Linked DNA regions of Homo sapiens: all the other regions are reported to be linked to region 1. Evidence: microRNA targets listed by miRTarBase, many of them from high-throughput screens and not tested one by one. Region 1 holds a microRNA gene; each other region holds the end of a gene's coding sequence.
Evidence for each region. The annotated mature microRNA hsa-miR-7515 reads AGAAGGGAAGAUGGUGAC and lies in region 1 at 2,083-2,100, opposite strand. An mRNA with a match to its seed (bases 2 to 7 or 8) in the 3' UTR can be bound and repressed. Matches are read on the target gene's strand: a 7mer-m8 pairs with bases 2 to 8, a 7mer-A1 pairs with bases 2 to 7 and ends in A, and an 8mer does both.

Region 2: miRTarBase lists NONO as a target of hsa-miR-7515. Seed matches in the 3' UTR shown: 7mer-A1 at 2,339-2,345.
Region 3: the mRNA of NR4A3 is a reported target of hsa-miR-7515. Seed matches in the 3' UTR shown: 7mer-m8 at 1,412-1,418.
Region 4: miRTarBase lists ZFP3 as a target of hsa-miR-7515. Seed matches in the 3' UTR shown: 7mer-m8 at 336-342 and 7mer-A1 at 255-261.
Region 5: miRTarBase lists DUSP8 as a target of hsa-miR-7515. Seed matches in the 3' UTR shown: 7mer-m8 at 2,419-2,425, 7mer-m8 at 2,037-2,043, 7mer-A1 at 1,492-1,498, 7mer-m8 at 996-1,002, 7mer-m8 at 976-982 and 7mer-A1 at 512-518.

The regions. Positions count from the first base shown.
Region 1 is chr2:6,649,251-6,652,517 of GRCh38, reverse strand. It overlaps MIR7515 (microRNA 7515), which reads right to left and starts at 2,145; the gene lies at 2,079-2,145. LINC03156 (long intergenic non-protein coding RNA 3156) reads left to right here and starts at 1,999. Exons shown (of 2, transcript NR_110497.1): 1 at 1,999-2,412; 2 at 3,137-3,267.
Region 2 is chrX:71,299,877-71,303,143 of GRCh38, reverse strand. It overlaps NONO (non-POU domain containing octamer binding), which reads right to left. Exons shown (of 12, transcript NM_007363.5): 12 at 1,976-3,202. The coding sequence ends at 3,068. It overlaps ITGB1BP2 (integrin subunit beta 1 binding protein 2), which reads right to left and starts at 1,394. Exons shown (of 11, transcript NM_012278.4): 1 at 1,274-1,394; 2 at 958-1,007; 3 at 811-867; 4 at 588-733. The coding sequence starts at 1,337.
Region 3 is chr9:99,863,203-99,866,469 of GRCh38, forward strand. It overlaps NR4A3 (nuclear receptor subfamily 4 group A member 3), which reads left to right. Exons shown (of 8, transcript NM_006981.4): 8 at 418-3,267. The coding sequence ends at 665. Among named protein-coding and RNA genes, the nearest start is that of STX17-DT, 42 kb to the right of the region's middle.
Region 4 is chr17:5,092,523-5,095,789 of GRCh38, reverse strand. It overlaps ZFP3 (ZFP3 zinc finger protein), which reads right to left. Exons shown (of 2, transcript NM_153018.3): 2 at 1-3,267. The coding sequence ends at 2,777. Among named protein-coding and RNA genes, the nearest start is that of ZFP3, 16 kb to the right of the region's middle.
Region 5 is chr11:1,553,645-1,556,911 of GRCh38, forward strand. DUSP8 (dual specificity phosphatase 8) reads right to left here. Exons shown (of 7, transcript NM_004420.3): 7 at 407-3,267. The coding sequence ends at 2,874. LOC124902608 reads right to left here and starts at 1,836. Exons shown (of 2, transcript XM_047427956.1): 1 at 1,305-1,836; 2 at 963-1,036. The coding sequence starts at 1,836. The coding sequence ends at 963. RefSeq lists an enhancer at 1,723-2,520.

The sequences.
Region 1 (3,267 bases):
CCTCCTGCTGCAATGTTATTTTCAGCCTGTCTTTCAAGCCTGTCCAGATTTTTGTGAACGCTGTTACTGAGTTTGCATGCACAAGGTTCCTCTCACAGATGAATCATGCCCAAATTTGACAAGTGTACTTTCTACATCTTCCACTACAATTTCTAAGAAACGAATAGGCTTCTACTGACATTAGTGAGTGGCATAAGCCTGAATGAAATAGACTATGACTCTTGACTGGCTGAATATACAATAAAAGCATAAAACACAAAATGCTTTTCCAACATAGATGCTAGAAATGAGAGTAAAGCTAAAATTCCCCAGCCATACACCCCATGTGGGCTCCAGCACTCTACGTTTAGCTGCCCAGATATCAGCACACATGGCTGTGATGGAGCCAGGAGGTGGGTGCTTCAGTCTTGACTTCCCCACTTTCTATCTTGTGTCCCACCATCTAACTTGTTTTGGGCAAGTCAGTTTTTTTGAGCCTACCTTTCCTCCTCTATGGTGTGTGGGTAGTAACACCAGTCAGACTTAACCTGAAAGTTGTGTGAATGAAAAGCATAATCTGTATGTCAACCCTGAAGATATACGTATGTCAGAAATTACTATAAAGAGATCATCAGCTGGGCACGGTGGCTCACACCTGTAATCCTAGCACTTTGGGAGGCCGAGGCGGGCAGATCACCTGAGGTCAGGAGTTCGAGACCAGCCTGGCCAACAAGATGAAACCCTGTCTCTACTAAAAATACAAAAATTAGCTGGGCGTGGTGGCGGACACCTGTAATCCCAGCTACTCGGGAGGCTGAGGTAGGAGAATTGCTTGAACCCAGGAGGCGGAGGTTGTGGTGAGCCGAGATGGCAGCATTGCACTCCAGCCTGGGGAACAAGAGCAAGACTTCATCTGGAAAAAAAAAAAAAAAGAAAAAAAAAGAGATCATCATTAATTTCCTTTCATCTCATGATGTAGAAACATTTAGATGTTGGGATCCTTCCACATACTTATCTAAGAAAATCTCTGGCTTTTTTTTTTTTTTTTTTTTTTTTTGAGATGGAGTCTCGCTCTTGATGCCCAGGCTGGCGTGCAGTGGCACCATCTGGGCTCATTGCAACCTCTGCCTCCCGGGTTTGAGAAATTCTCCTGCCTCAGTCTCCTGAGTATCTGGGATTACAGGCACCCGCCACCACGCCTGGCTAATTTTTTAAATATTTTTAGTAGAGACAGGGTTTCACCATGTTGACCAAGCTAGCCTCAAACTCCTGACCTCAGGTGATCTACCCACCTTGGCTTCACAAAGTGCTGGGATTACAGGCATGGGCCACTTTTCTATTTGTTTATTTTTGTGTTGGTTTTTCTATTTTTGGTGTTTCTGGATCATGGACTTTGAAAAACTTCCTGGCTTAGCAAATTAGTGTCCTTGTTTCAGTAGCTTCTGCTTGAAGATTTCTGCTGTAGGCAATGAGCCAACTGGCCAGAAAATATCCAGTTATGCTCTGCAGGTTCATGGTGGATGGGGACTTTCACTGTTGTTTAGAGAAACCATTGAGTGGATAACGTTCCAAACAGCAAAATCAAATGGGGATTCTGTACACTCGGGAGTGTCGGCTCTGGACAAATTAGGTTGCACTTGATTGTAAGAAGCCAGGCTTTATTAAAATAGAATATAAATATTAACAGAAACGGACTGCTTCTAATCCCCACTACCGTTGGCCAGGGAGGCCTCTCTTCAGGTTTTCTGAATGGAACTAAATAAGGAGCCCATGTTACCGCGGAAAGGGCACTGTGATTAGGAGCCTTTCATGAGCTTCCATGAACGTCTAGGGCTTGGAAACTTCATTTTCAAAATAAGGCTGTTGGATTAGATGATTTTCCCAACCCCTAACCCTCTGTGTTAATGAATGGACTGACTCTATAATCATGTTCCTTGGACATTTCTATGGAAACACTGAGCCATCATAAGGGAGGCCTTCATTCTGATGTAACAAAGCCAGCTGTGTCCACATGAGAACATTGGCAAGAGTGGGGACATGGAAGCTGTGTTCAGGCCGGTCCACGCTGGGTGACCCATGTGACCTGCTGCTTAGCAATTCCTTGTCACCATCTTCCCTTCTCAGCCTCTTTTTTCATGCTAACAGGCATAAATGAAATGATAAAAGTTTGAGCTCTTCTCGTGGAATTCTCGTGATACAGATATGTGCTACATGTTCATCATCTCGTTGGTCTTCACCATGATAACTGTGGAGTAAGAATTATAAGCAGGTCACAGATTAGGGACTTGAGATTGACAGTTTGGCTTCCCTGTTCTGGGTGGCAAAGCCTGTGGAGTACTCACCTACCTGCTGCATGAAGGCAGCATGGAGGGACTGTGGTGGATTATCTGCAAAGATGGCCAAAATTCTCTCATCCCTGCAGGCACATACAAGGTAAGAACACCTTTACCAGTGGAATGTGATGAAAATGCTGCCCAGACAATTCTAGACAGGGCCTTAAGAGGTCTAGATGCTTCCACATTTGCTTTCTTGGGAGCTCTGAGTTATCATGTGAGAACCACCAGTCTCCCCAACCTGCACCCTAAGCTCATTATCCACAAGGCTGTGCAAAATAATAAATCACTGTTGTTAGGACGCAAAGTTTGGTAGTGGTTTGTTATGTAGTCGTGGATAACTGCAGCAGGGATCTCAGCAACTTTTCTTCTCTGAACTAATGTTTAAAGTCAGGATGTAACATATTGTCTCCATGTGACTTTGTTGAACTAAATAAAGAATGCTAATACCAGATGCGGACCCTGCCTCTTCTGTTCTCTAAGACTAGGCATTGCTCTCTGATCAGAAGAGTCAATCCTGGTGAGTTTAACTTGAGCCTCAGAATCCTACTCAACACAAAGTTCCAGAGAGAAGCGATTATCAATGCCAATACCTTAGAGATGGTACTGGCTGTGGAATCTGTCATCCCTTGACTAGGTGGTCTCTAAGTTCCTTTCCAATTTTAATGTTTTCTGTTCTGATTTATCTTTTGGCATTGTGCAGGTGTCAGGAGAAAAAAATAATGCCAATGTGTCTCTTTAATTCCTTTATCATTAAGTCATAACCTTTCCCAACTCCCAATCCAGTTTTCTTACGTCAATACTTTGGTTTTTGCTTTGTGAAGATGCCAGAATCAGTCAAAACTAAGCTCACTGTCCTTGCTAATATTCTGCCCCAGAGAAGAACTGAAGCTCAGCTCTTCACCCTACAGAAAGCCTGAATTTTGTAAATGTTCTGCTTAGAATGAGGAAGAAA
Region 2 (3,267 bases), not on the chromosome of region 1:
GGTTGGGTAGCAACCCCATTGCCAATTTTCATCTCTGTGGACATCCCAAATACCTGAACCCTAGAGAAATCCCCAGCACTTCTCTTACCCATCTACTCAGTTGCTCTAAACCTAACCACTTTTCTCTGCAGAACTGAGTCATATCCTCTTCCTCTTTATCTAATCGTGGACCTAATATGACTTCCTTCTGTTGCTCTTATTATTCCCACAAAATTTGGGAAGTCTCCTGGCTGCCAATAATACAATACATCCTTTTCTTGATATGAGATTTATCTTAAAGTTCTTTTCTAGAAAGAGAAGTCATTCTCAACAATCCCTTTTGTGTTATACACTAAGGATGTATTTGTGAGGGGCTATCTACTCTGTTGATTCAGGTATCTATCCCATCATCCCACACCACCTTAGAGGAAAGGGCGTTATTTCCAGACACAAATTTCCCCTAAGGCACAGGATATACACCATCCAAACCCTGACATCTGGCCCTCCTCACATCCCTGGTCCCTAGTTCCCAGTCCTCAATGACCCATTAATCACTCCTAGGAAGCTACATGAAAATAAGAAAAGTCCAGGGGCCTCCTCCTCTTTACTTGGGCCTCTCCCGGCGCAAGGTCTCTGCTGACTTTGGAATCACATTCAGAGGTTTTTGCTCCTGAAGTGAACTGCTTGTAGCAGGGCCTTCAGGTTGAGGGGCCTCAGGAAGCTTCTCAGCACAGTGTGGTCCCATAGTACAGCCCTAGTATAGATAAGGAGATAGGATTAGGGATAGAATCCTTCTATTGGGGGCAGAATCCAAGTACATAAATAATTTACCTTGATGTTTAAGAACTCAGAGAAATCTACAGTTCGCTTTCGGCAGCAGGACCAACCCTGATAACAAGAGACCCAGATCAGCTTAGCTTCCTGGGTATTATCTCTTCTGGGAAATGCTCTTGCTAACCCCCCTCACCTACTCCTCACCTTAAGTGCATCATGGAAGATTGGGACCCCAGGGTGATGGCAACAGGAATCTGTGGACATCAGTAGAAGTTATCAAGGAAGGGAAGATAACTATACCAAGTATCATTTTTCACCTCTTCCCCGGGTTTCTATTTATGGTTTCTTCCCATATAATGTGAAGAAAAAAAAAAAAGCCAGCAAAGGCTGTAAGATCACTCAGACCAATTAAACTAGGGCAGGTAGTTTCTTTCCCCGCTCCTCAAACACACTGCCCCCCAGCTGACCAGTCCCCAACACCCACACAGAGCCCCTGGCCAGGTCAGGATTCTTTACTCACCAGGAAGGTTGGTATTAGGGTCAAAGTGCTGCCCACAGCCTTTGTTACGACAGAGTAGAGACATGGAAGCGTTGGTTGAATGATTACTGAAAGGGTATTTCAAGGAGTCTGGCTGCCGAATGGGGAACACCTCTTAGTCTGGAGGCTTTTAGCTGCCTGGAAGGGCCAGCTGTTTCTATCTTTAGTTCAGGAGGCGTACACCTCCTAACATGGGCAAGGGAACTTCAATTCGTCTTTCCAGCCAATAGGAAAGAGCTCGGGGGCATTTTAGCTCTGAGGCTCAGGAAAAAAGGATCAGGCAGAGTAGGGCTTTGAACTTGGGTGAGGTCAGCTCACCACTACTGAGACAGTTTTAGATTCACCACAGCAATTCCAAGCCTTGGACACAGCAGCAGCTGCTAAGAAACAAATACCAATTTTGAGACCCCCCCCGCGCCCCCAGCTCGATGAGGATTAAGCCCATTTTCTTCCTCTTTCAGAGGGGCAGCTTTCCTCCATCATTACTTCCATGTAGTATCAATAGCGCTAATCCTTGCCAACCCCTCCAGCCATTTGATGCACCTCATCCCCACCTCCTCCCCATGTTTGTCTAGATCAATACTGTAATCCAAAGGTCATAAAGGATTACCTTTATAGAGTCTACTGCTCATCTCCTAAGATAACTCCCCTCCCTCCTTTCCCCTTCAAAAACACCACAGAAAATTAAAAGGCTTAAAATGTATTTTAATAGGTTGATGCTGCATTACTGCTCCATTTTTCAGAAAAACTCCAAATATATGAGACAAATCAAACACAGTACACCAATGAAAAAAAAAATGCACAGCATGACTACCTAAGATAGGCGAGTCTAAGAGCTACTGTCAGACCTTCAGTATACAGTAACCCTGTTCCCAAGATTGTACTAGGCCTATCAAGAAAAGCTGTGAACAGCAACATCATAGACACAAAAGGGTCATTCCTGGGTGTCCTCACCCAAGAAAAAGATGGAGGCAAGTTAACACAAGATTTTTTTTTAAAGATACACTAAAATGAAAATCTCTAAGAGAAAATGTCTTCTTTAGGACATGAAGGGGTAATATATGGGGTATAACAGAACCGTATGTACGCTGCCTGTGACCTTTGTGGACGTTTGCCTGAATTCTCACCTGGGAGTGAATGGAGCAATGGGGCTAAGGTCATTGGGGGATGTTTGGTTTTTGTGGTGTATGTGGCAGTTTCTCTGGGGCTGGGGGAGTGTAAGGATAAGAAGCAAGTGAGGTTGGGCACGGTGGCTCACCCCTGTAATCCCAGCATTTTGGGAGGCCGAGGTGGGTAGATCACGAGGTCAGGAGTTCAAGATCAACCTGGACAAGCTTGAACCCGGGAGGCAGAGATTGCAGTGAGCCGAGATCATGCCACTACACTCCAGCCTGGGCGACAGAGTAAGACTCCGTCTCGGGGGCGGGGCAAGCAAATGAAACAAGATGGACAAAAAAAAAAAAAACCGGAATGATCAAGATTAATGGGCTCTAACTGGATCCACTTTGCCATGGTTTCCCCAGGCCCTCAACAGTCACATTAGAGACTTCAGGAATGCACCACACAGAACTGATTAAACAATATACCACACAGAATTGACTTGTTTAATACCACCCCTCCCTTGCCCTCTGCCTCCAGCATACTCCCTAGAGTAGTACAGGCAGGGTAGATCTAACTATTGGAAGGAATCCCTAACACTTTTCCAGGGTAGAATTCTGGCTAGTCCAAAAAGGGTCCTTCTTTTAAGGGTTTTGAGAAACTAGACACTGCAACTTATTAGTATCGGCGACGTTTGTTTGGGGCAAATTCAGCTCCAGGAGCTGCACGGTTGAATGCAGGAGGAGTTCCACCAATTGCCCCAATTCCTTCCATTGTAGCAGCCTGACCAAAGCGTTCAGTTGTTGGTGGGGTCTTAAAGAGAAAAAGAGAGCAACACTGTAACAGAGCCATTGTTGGAAGCTTCCCACCCATCTGTA
Region 3 (3,267 bases), not on the chromosome of region 1:
GACAAGGCTTTGTGAGAGCTTAGTAGGATAATGTATGCAAAATAATAACCACCCTGCCATTCATTCCATGTGGCTGTGTGCCAGGAACTGTGCTTCCCTTGTGTTACTTACCTAAGCTGGCCATCCCAGAAACCCTGAATTGGGTATGATCATTTTCTTCATCTCATAAGGAAATGGGTGCTCAGAAGTAAAGAGACTTACTCTAGGGCACACAGCAAGTAAGTGTTGGGACTGGGATTCAAACCTTGGTGTTGCTTCATACCAAAGGCCATGAGCTATCTCTAACAGGGAGGGCACTTTGATTGCAAAGAAGCTATCCAAACTGGCAGAATGAGACACAGACCTCAATTAGGGATTCAAAGTGTCTTAAGATGTATTTGCCTCCTAAACTTCTTGCCCTTCTCTATCCCTCTGCAGAAAGACATGGGTTAAAAGAACCAAAGAGAGTCGAAGAGCTATGCAACAAGATCACAAGCAGTTTAAAAGACCACCAGAGTAAGGGACAGGCTCTGGAGCCCACCGAGTCCAAGGTCCTGGGTGCCCTGGTAGAACTGAGGAAGATCTGCACCCTGGGCCTCCAGCGCATCTTCTACCTGAAGCTGGAAGACTTGGTGTCTCCACCTTCCATCATTGACAAGCTCTTCCTGGACACCCTACCTTTCTAATCAGGAGCAGTGGAGCAGTGAGCTGCCTCCTCTCCTAGCACCTGCTTGCTACGCAGCAAAGGGATAGGTTTGGAAACCTATCATTTCCTGTCCTTCCTTAAGAGGAAAAGCAGCTCCTGTAGAAAGCAAAGACTTTCTTTTTTTTCTGGCTCTTTTCCTTACAACCTAAAGCCAGAAAACTTGCAGAGTATTGTGTTGGGGTTGTGTTTTATATTTAGGCATTGGGGGATGGGGTGGGAGGGGGTTATAGTTCATGAGGGTTTTCTAAGAAATTGCTAACAAAGCACTTTTGGACAATGCTATCCCAGCAGGAAAAAAAAGGATAATATAACTGTTTTAAAACTCTTTCTGGGGAATCCAATTATAGTTGCTTTGTATTTAAAAACAAGAACAGCCAAGGGTTGTTCGCCAGGGTAGGATGTGTCTTAAAGATTGGTCCCTTGAAAATATGCTTCCTGTATCAAAGGTACGTATGTGGTGCAAACAAGGCAGAAACTTCCTTTTAATTTCCTTCTTCCTTTATTTTAACAAATGGTGAAAGATGGAGGATTACCTACAAATCAGACATGGCAAAACAATAATGGCTGTTTGCTTCCATAAACAAGTGCAATTTTTTAAAGTGCTGTCTTACTAAGTCTTGTTTATTAACTCTCCTTTATTCTATATGGAAATAAAAAGGAGGCAGTCATGTTAGCAAATGACACGTTAATATCCCTAGCAGAGGCTGTGTTCACCTTCCCTGTCGATCCCTTCTGAGGTATGGCCCATCCAAGACTTTTAGGCCATTCTTGATGGAACCAGATCCCTGCCCTGACTGTCCAGCTATCCTGAAAGTGGATCAGATTATAAACTGGATTACATGTAACTGTTTTGGTTGTGTTCTATCAACCCCACCAGAGTTCCCTAAACTTGCTTCAGTTATAGTAACTGACTGGTATATTCATTCAGAAGCGCCATAAGTCAGTTGAGTATTTGATCCCTAGATAAGAACATGCAAATCAGCAGGAACTGGTCATACAGGGTAAGCACCAGGGACAATAAGGATTTTTATAGATATAATTTAATTTTTGTTATTGGTTAAGGAGACAATTTTGGAGAGCAAGCAAATCTTTTTAAAAAATAGTATGAATGTGAATACTAGAAAAGATTTAAAAAATAGTATGAGTGTGAGTACTAGGAAGGATTAGTGGGCTGCGTTTCAACATTCCGTGTTCGTACTCCCTTTTGTATGTTTCTACTGTTAATGCCATATTACTATGAGATAATTTGTTGCATAGTGTCCTTATTTGTATAAACATTTGTATGCACGTTATATTGTAATAGCTTTGCCTGTATTTATTGCAAGACCACCAGCTCCTGGAAGCTGAGTTACAGAGTAATTAAATGGGGTGTTCACAGTGACTTGGATACACCAATTAGAAATTAAATAAGCAAATATATATATATATATAAATATAGCAGGTTACATATATATATTTATAATGTGTCTTTTTATTAACCATTTGTACAATAAATGTCACTTCCCATGCCGTTATTTTATGGTTCATTTGCAGTGACTTTTAAGGCAGTACTGTTTAGCACTTTGATATTAAAATTTTGCTTATGTTTTGCTAAATTCGAATAATGTTTGAAGATTTTTAGGTCTAAAAGTCTTTATATTATATACTCTGTATCAAGTCAAAATATCTTTGGCCATTTTGCTAAGAAACAAACTTTGAATGTCAAACTGATGTCACAGTAGTTTTTGTTAGCTTTAAATCATTTTTGCTTTAGTCTTTTTAAAGGAAAATAACAAAACTATGCTGTTTATATTGTCATTAAATTATACAATCAAACAAATGCCAAATGAATTGCCTAATTGCTGCAAAGTATAACCCAGATAGGAAATCATATGTTTTTTTCCAAGAGTCATTCTAATATTTGATTATGTTATGTGTGCTTTTATGAAAGATTGTTATTTTTATATATCAAGATGATAGAACCTGGAATGTTAGGATTTTGAAATGTTAGACTTGGAAGGGGCCTGGTCTGTCAACTAGTCCAACCCCTTAAAATTCATAGAGGAGCAAACTGGGGCCCATTGAAGGGTGAAGAGTTACTCAAGGTCAAACAGCTGGTAACAGAATCAAGACTAAGACCTAATTTACCTTTCCATACTCTTTTTTTTTCTCAACTTCATCTATATAAAATCAGGCTTTTAAACATAACCACTAATATTTACCTGAAGATAACCATGAGTAAAGTATACTTTTGCATTAATTTTTTGAGCTTATATGCAAACATAATAAATATTATTAAATATCAGGAAAGCTAACATTTCATACAAGATAGCTTCAGACCAAATTCAAATTGAATTTGAATAAATTAGAAATACTGTGCATACATAACCTTCTTGTGCACCATGAGTATTTGGAAAGTTAATCCTTGTTTTTGTCGTGTCTATAAAGGAAGAACAAAACAAAATAAAAACAGAGCCCTAGAGAAATGCTGTTACTTTTTATTTTTACACCCATCAGATTTAAGGAAAAGACTTTTTAGCCATTATAATCTAGTGGTTGGAAGGAATGAAGAAGCTTTTTTAGTAATAGGTCCAGATATGAGT
Region 4 (3,267 bases), not on the chromosome of region 1:
TAATTGAGCTAGGGCCAGGGGAGGCGAGGTGATGGATTGGATATCTAGTAGGCAAAAAGAAGTTGAGGTGACTGAGCCTTGAGAGGGGAGGACAAGAGGAAAACCTTCATTGGTTTGGCCAGTAAGGTACTTCTGAGAACAAAATGTCTAATAGGATGCACAATGTGAACTCTTCTCCTTTGCTTACACACTATCTTCAGTGAAGTCCATATTGCTCAGGGGTGTTTGTGTGCATAGATTGTTTAGGAGAAGCTTGAAGGGGTGCCAAATTCTCTGTCAGGGCTGACAAGAGGTAAATGTGGAAATAAAATATGCAAACACGGGAATCAGGCATGGAAGGGATAGGTGAGATCCAGGTTTCATGTGAGAAAGATACGGTCTGGGCACAATTCAATTTGTGCTCCAGCAATGAAAAAGGAATAAGACGGCGCACTTCACTTGTAATCAACCTAAGGGAAGAAGTAAATCAAACAACTTCCCTTACTAAGAGTGTGACTGCTAGAGGCAGAGGTATCTGGAAGGATGTGGAAACTCTGCAATCATCTATTTGTACAACCCTTTTCTCAAGCCAAGGATATAAACCTGGGAAGACACCTATATTGGAGTACAGAATAAACCCATTTGGTGAATTTTTTTTGGCTGTGATCAGTTCTGTTACCAAGGACATGATTTAAATTTGTTATATTCAAATCTACATAGAAATCAGTAATAGAAACTGTGCAAAGGGTTTCAGATAAGGCAGTAATGAATCTGCCTACCTGCGGCATAGCACAGTGGTTAAGAGCATCAACCAGGTTTGGAGTCTTGGCTGTCGCTCTTACTAGCTGTGGAATCATGGGTCAATTACTTAACACTGCCCCTTCTTATCTTTTAAATTGGGGTAAGAATACCCACATCATTGATGGTTGCACCACTATGTAAATTAAAAATCATTCAACTGAACACTTAAAACAGGTGAATTTTATAGTACGTAAATTATACCTTCATAAAGCTTTAAAAAAATGAGTACCCACATCATAGAAATGATGTGAAAATTAAAATGTAAACTGGCACTCTGCCTGTCAGGTAGTAAACACTCAATAAATATTAGTGACTAATATTAGTGTAACAAAGATGAGGTTAAAGAATAATAAAGATATATAAAGTTAAATTTTTAAAGAATTAAGGAATTATCGGGCTGGTTGAAACTTTTGAGATCACTTAGTTCAACTCTTTCATTTTACAGAGGAGAAAATTGGAGACCAGCAGGTGAAGTGCCTTGTTCAAGGTCTAGCGCTAAGACCAGCCCCCAGGCCTGTTGGGCCCCCATTAGTGCAATTCCCACTGTCACCCACGGCCTCAGAAACATGGACACATGGAAAATGTAGGCTGTTTCCTTGGAGAAGAAATAAATACAGAACACAAAAAACATGCAGACATAGCGAAGAAAGAATTTCAAGGCCGGGCATGGTAGCTCACACCTGTAATCTCAATACTTTGGGAAGTTGAGGCAAAAAGATTGCTGGAGCCCAGGCATTCAAGACCAGCCTGGGCAACATAGCAAGACTTTATCTCTATTTTTTTAAAGTTATTCAAGAAAAAAGAATTTCAAGGCCAAGGGGCAAAACCAAGAAGAGGCTACGACATCCTGACTTAGCCAGGGCCTCCAGTGCGGTCCAGGTCATGAGAACTTAAGTGCTTTGGCAAGGCCAGACCCTGGTTTGTCATCAGGTGAACTGACTCATCACTGTAGCCAGGTGCCCGGAGGAGGTGAAGCCACAGTCCTGTCTGCTACTTACTGTCACAATATCTGTCAGCAGTGGCAGGAGATGGGGCTAAAAATATATGCAGCAGAATTCTTAGGAGCAGTCAGTCTGAGCACCCCTGAAGTGTGGACAGCTCCTGAAGAGCTGCTTCTGCCCATGCCGAGCAGTGTGACCTCAATTGTTTATCCCCTGGTGTTGCCTAATCGGCCCCTCTGGATTCTAAGGCCTTCACTTATAATCCCGTTGTAAATTGCCTGTCAGTTCCTCCATCATGGCAGCCTCTTCAGATGAATAAGGAAGCCTGACAGATGTGAAATGAGCCTGCTTCTTCATTAATGCTGCCATCTTCTAAAGTAACTTCATAGCAGGGCTGGACGACTTTGAAGCTAATAACAGCTTACTAAATTATTCCAATGCTAAACAGTGGACAGGAGAATGAGGTGTGTCTTCTAAATTATGACTTTCTAATATTTCAGGGGGTAACAGTCAATGAGTCAACTCTCATTCTTAGGAGGTGGTGGAATCCTGTTCCCACAATTTTGCTGAAGAGTAATTTAGGAAAGATGGCTGGTACAGACCCTTAATGTTTGTTATGTGATCCACTGGGGGAGGAGAAGGGGAAGGAAGGACAGAGGGGAAATTAAGGCCTGAAAGAGCTTTTATGATTTAACTTAGCACACTGAAACCTCTCAATGAATAATTCATAAAAGTGCCTCATTAGTGCCTGCAGTCCTAGCTATTTGGAAGGCTGAGGCAGGAGGACTGTTTGAGCCCAGGAGTTCAAGGAAGCAGTGAGTTACGACTGTGCCACTGCATCCCATCCTGGGCAACAGAGCAAGACCCCAATGCTTAAAAAAAAAAAAAAAAAAGTGCCTCATCTTCTTCAACCAACTATTTAAAATCAGTGGGAGGACAGAGGAGGTTCTGTCCATTCATTGGATTTGAATACTTGGGGTGCATATTTGCATATTATGAACAAATGAATAAGTTGGACTTTAGCTTTTCCACTAAAAGCTTTCCTATTTTGCAGATTACTCCATACAGTGAACACTTTGATGTCGGAGGAGGTGAGAGCTCCGACTAAAAGTCTTCTGACATTCTTGGCACTCATAAGGCTTCTCTCCAGTGTGAATTCTCTGATGTATGATAAGTTGGGAATGCTGGCTAAATGTTTTCTCACACTCGCTACATTCATAAGGTTTCTCTCCAATATGAATTTTCTGGTGGAGAAGCAGCTCAGAATTATCCCAAAAGGTTCTTGCACACTCATTACATTGATGGGGTTTCTCTCCAGTATGAATTCTCTGGTGGACAATAAGGTGAGAGGTCCGCCTGAAAGCCTTTCCACACTCAAAGCATTCATAGGGTTTCTCTCCAGTGTGAATTCTCTCATGTCTAAGAAGTTCTGAGTTCCCCCTGAAGGCCTTCCCACATTCCTTACATACATAGGGCTTCTCACCAGTATGAATTCTAATATGTCTAATAATCTCTGAGTTCTGGCCAAAAGTTTTCCCACATTCAT
Region 5 (3,267 bases), not on the chromosome of region 1:
TAGCTAGACCCCTATTTCTGCTGGTACGTATATGCACCCACACACATGCACACAGCACACAGCACACATGGAGGGGCTGGGAGGGAAGCATCCAACTGTTCACATTGGGATTGTGGGAGTGAGGGGACTGGTGGGTAACACTGAGGTTTTATATCGTTTTAAGTTATTTAAGCTTTTACTAGCCTGTAACAACTGAAAAAGTGTGTTTTACACCCTAAAGGTGCAGCTGAGGACCTGTGCCCATGCCTGGCCCCCAGGGACTATTCTCAGAGCTCACCCGCGGTGTGAGCCTGGGGCAAGTTTCCAGACCCAACACACCAGGCTCTGGCCTCAGGCCTGCCTCCCAGCAGCCTCTGCCCCCACCCTGCCCACCACCAGTCTGAAGGAAGAGGCGCGGAGTCGTGGGGAAAACATCCACTTTAAGCTTTATTACAACACATTGTCTCCAAATACAAAGGGAGGGGCCGGGAGCAGAAGGTGCGGCTGTGGCGGGAGGGGCTCCAAGGGGGGCTGAAGGGCCGGCAGCCCAGTCTACAGAGACTGGAGGCTCAGCGGGGGACCTGCACCCTCTCCTCCGCTGGACTTCCCAGCAAATAACAGGAGGGGCCGGGTCCATTTTGGGGCGATCCCAATGCCAGGCAGTGGCCAGGTGGGAGGGGCCGGAGAGAGGCTTGGAGAGGACTCAGGGCTGGGTCAGGTGAAAGCCACCAGGTGGGGCCCTGGCCCGCCTCCCGCAGCACTGGAGGAGGCAGTGGCCAGGTGGGAGGGGCCGGAGAGAGGCTTGGAGAGGACTCAGGGCTGGGTCAGGTGAAAGCCACCAGGTGGGGCCTCAGCCCGCCTCCTGCAGCACTGGAGGAGGCAGTGGCCAACACAGGACCTTCGCCCCCCTGCTGGCTGCTCACTTTGCGGTAACCAGTGCCTCAAGAGTGGGAGCAGAGACAGACTGAGACAGACAGCCCCCCTCAACGGCCTGCAGAAGGGACAAGGGGAAGGGGGAAGGGAGAAGGGGGCCCAACCAGTGGCCCCAGACCACTGTCTCCCGGACAGCACAGGGGTGGGGGGCGAGAAGCGGGAAGCCAGTGCATCCTCCTCACCCAGGGTCTCCTCAGAAACCCAACGCAACAGACATATGGGAGGCAAATTTACATAATTAATAATAATTAACCAATAATAATAAATACTTAAACCTCTAATCCATAGATTGCAAATACAACGATAGCTTATTTTCTTGGGGGAACAGGAGTGGGTGGGGACAGAGGGAACGGGAACAGGACTTTTGCTGAAAGGAGGGATGACAGGAACACAGAGCTGTGGGTGAAAAGAAGAACAAATAGAAGAAACAGCAGAGAGGGCGGCTGGCTGGGGCGGGATGGGCGCCTCCCTGGCCCTGCTCCAGGACTCAGGACTGGGTCCTGCCCTGGGCTGCCTCTCCGGCCAAGCCCCTGGCCTCTTCCCACAGTGACTGGCCCCACTCCTAGACCCTAGGACATCTGAAGGGCAGGGGTCCCAATGGCCCGAGGGGGTATGGGGCAGGGGCAGCAGGCTGACCCACCTGGGCCCAAAAGCCACTTGTGTTTGGGGGCTGGCATGCCACCTAGAGAGAGAGCACCCTGGGAAAGGGGTGAATGGGAGTTTCTCTCCTGAGCGGCCCCATGGGGGTGGGGGCAAACGAGGGGGCTTTACCTGTCTTGAGGCAGTGCTCCCTAAGTGAAGCAGGCCTATCCCAGCAGCACAGGGGCTTGGCTGGCGCCTGAACTCCCTGTGTGAGCAGCACCTGCTCACAGAGCCCCTCAGCCTGCAGGTGCACACCTGAATTCCAAGTTCTGCCTGGGGCATGGCTGGGAGGGGGGCGGGGCAGACCTGGAACAGAACCCTAAGACCACCCCCTCCTCATACCTGGGGGTCCAGGGCTTCCTGCCCAGTGGAGCCAGCACTGGCTAGCCAGGCGCCTCCTGCCTGACCCCCGGAGGCCAAGCTCCTCTCCTGCAATGGTGCCACCCTGCCCGGCAGGCAGCTCTGGGGGCATGGGCAAGGGAGAAGGGAGGGCCGCAGCCCTCTAGGAATGGCCTTTCTGAGCCACTCTGTGGCTGGACTGGGGCTCTGGCAGGAGTTGGGGGCACTAACACCTCTGTCCTCCCCTGGGCTGCACCTCATCTGACGTTCCAGAACCCCCTGCCCGAAGCCCCTACACACACTGTTCTATTTCTCAGCCCCTCTGAACACCCTGGCACCATGAAGCCCAATGCCTGTCCTCCCCTGCCAGAGAACAGCTCTGGGGCAACGGGCAGCGGGGTGCCCTCCTTGCCACCAAGATTTGGTGCCTGGAGCTGATGGAGGGCTGGCCGCACCTCTCCGGGGCACACCAGCTCCTGCTCCTCCATCCTATGGCTTTGGTGCAGAGCCCTAGGCCGGCGCAGAGAAGGGAGGGAGCAGGGGAGGTGGGTGGGGGGAGAAGGGGGGTTCTGCGGCTCAGTTTGTGGCAAAGAAGTTTTTTTTTCCTTTTTTTCACCTTTTTGTTATGTAAAAAGTGCACGAAAGCTCGGCAGCCTTTGCAAAGGTCAGCAGTGTTTCCTGGGGCGGGGGAACTGGGAGGGGCCCCAGGCCTGGCACCCAGCTTGCGACTGAAGGTGGCCTCGTATTGCTTAGAAACGTATGTTTCAGTTTAAATACCAGACAGTAAAAATAGAGCTCGAGGACCACCCGCACTGTTGCCAAATCATTGCCAGAATGAACAGCTTAAATAAATAAAAAATCGAAATATTTACTTCTCGATAAAAATCCCAGTAAAACCATTTACCTTTCTTTGCATTATATATAATATACATTTATAACGGGCCTGGCTGCGGGCGGCGGGGCCGAGGGCAGCGGAGGGGTCAGGACACCTCGATGACCTCCACGCTGCCCGAGAAGCTCGCCTGCTTGCCCAGGGCGGCCAGCTCCTCGCCGCGCGCGCGCCCCTCCACCATGCCCTCCTCGAACTCCATCTGGCAGCTGCGGCGCTTGAACTGCGTCTCCGGGGCCGGCTCCTCGGGCCAGCCGGTCCGCGCGTCCCGGGGCTCAGCCCTCGCTGCCTCCCGCCGCCGCAGGTCGCTGCCGCCGCCTGGTCCCGGGGCGCCCGCCCGGCCGAAGGGCGCAAACAGCACCCCGCCCGCCCCCTGTGCGCCCTCGGGGCTGAAGCACCAGGGCCCGTCGGGCGACGGCGTGCCTGGGGAGTCGAGCGGCGGTGCCCAGGCCCCGGGGCCGGCCGGCTGGCCAGGGCCGGGCAGC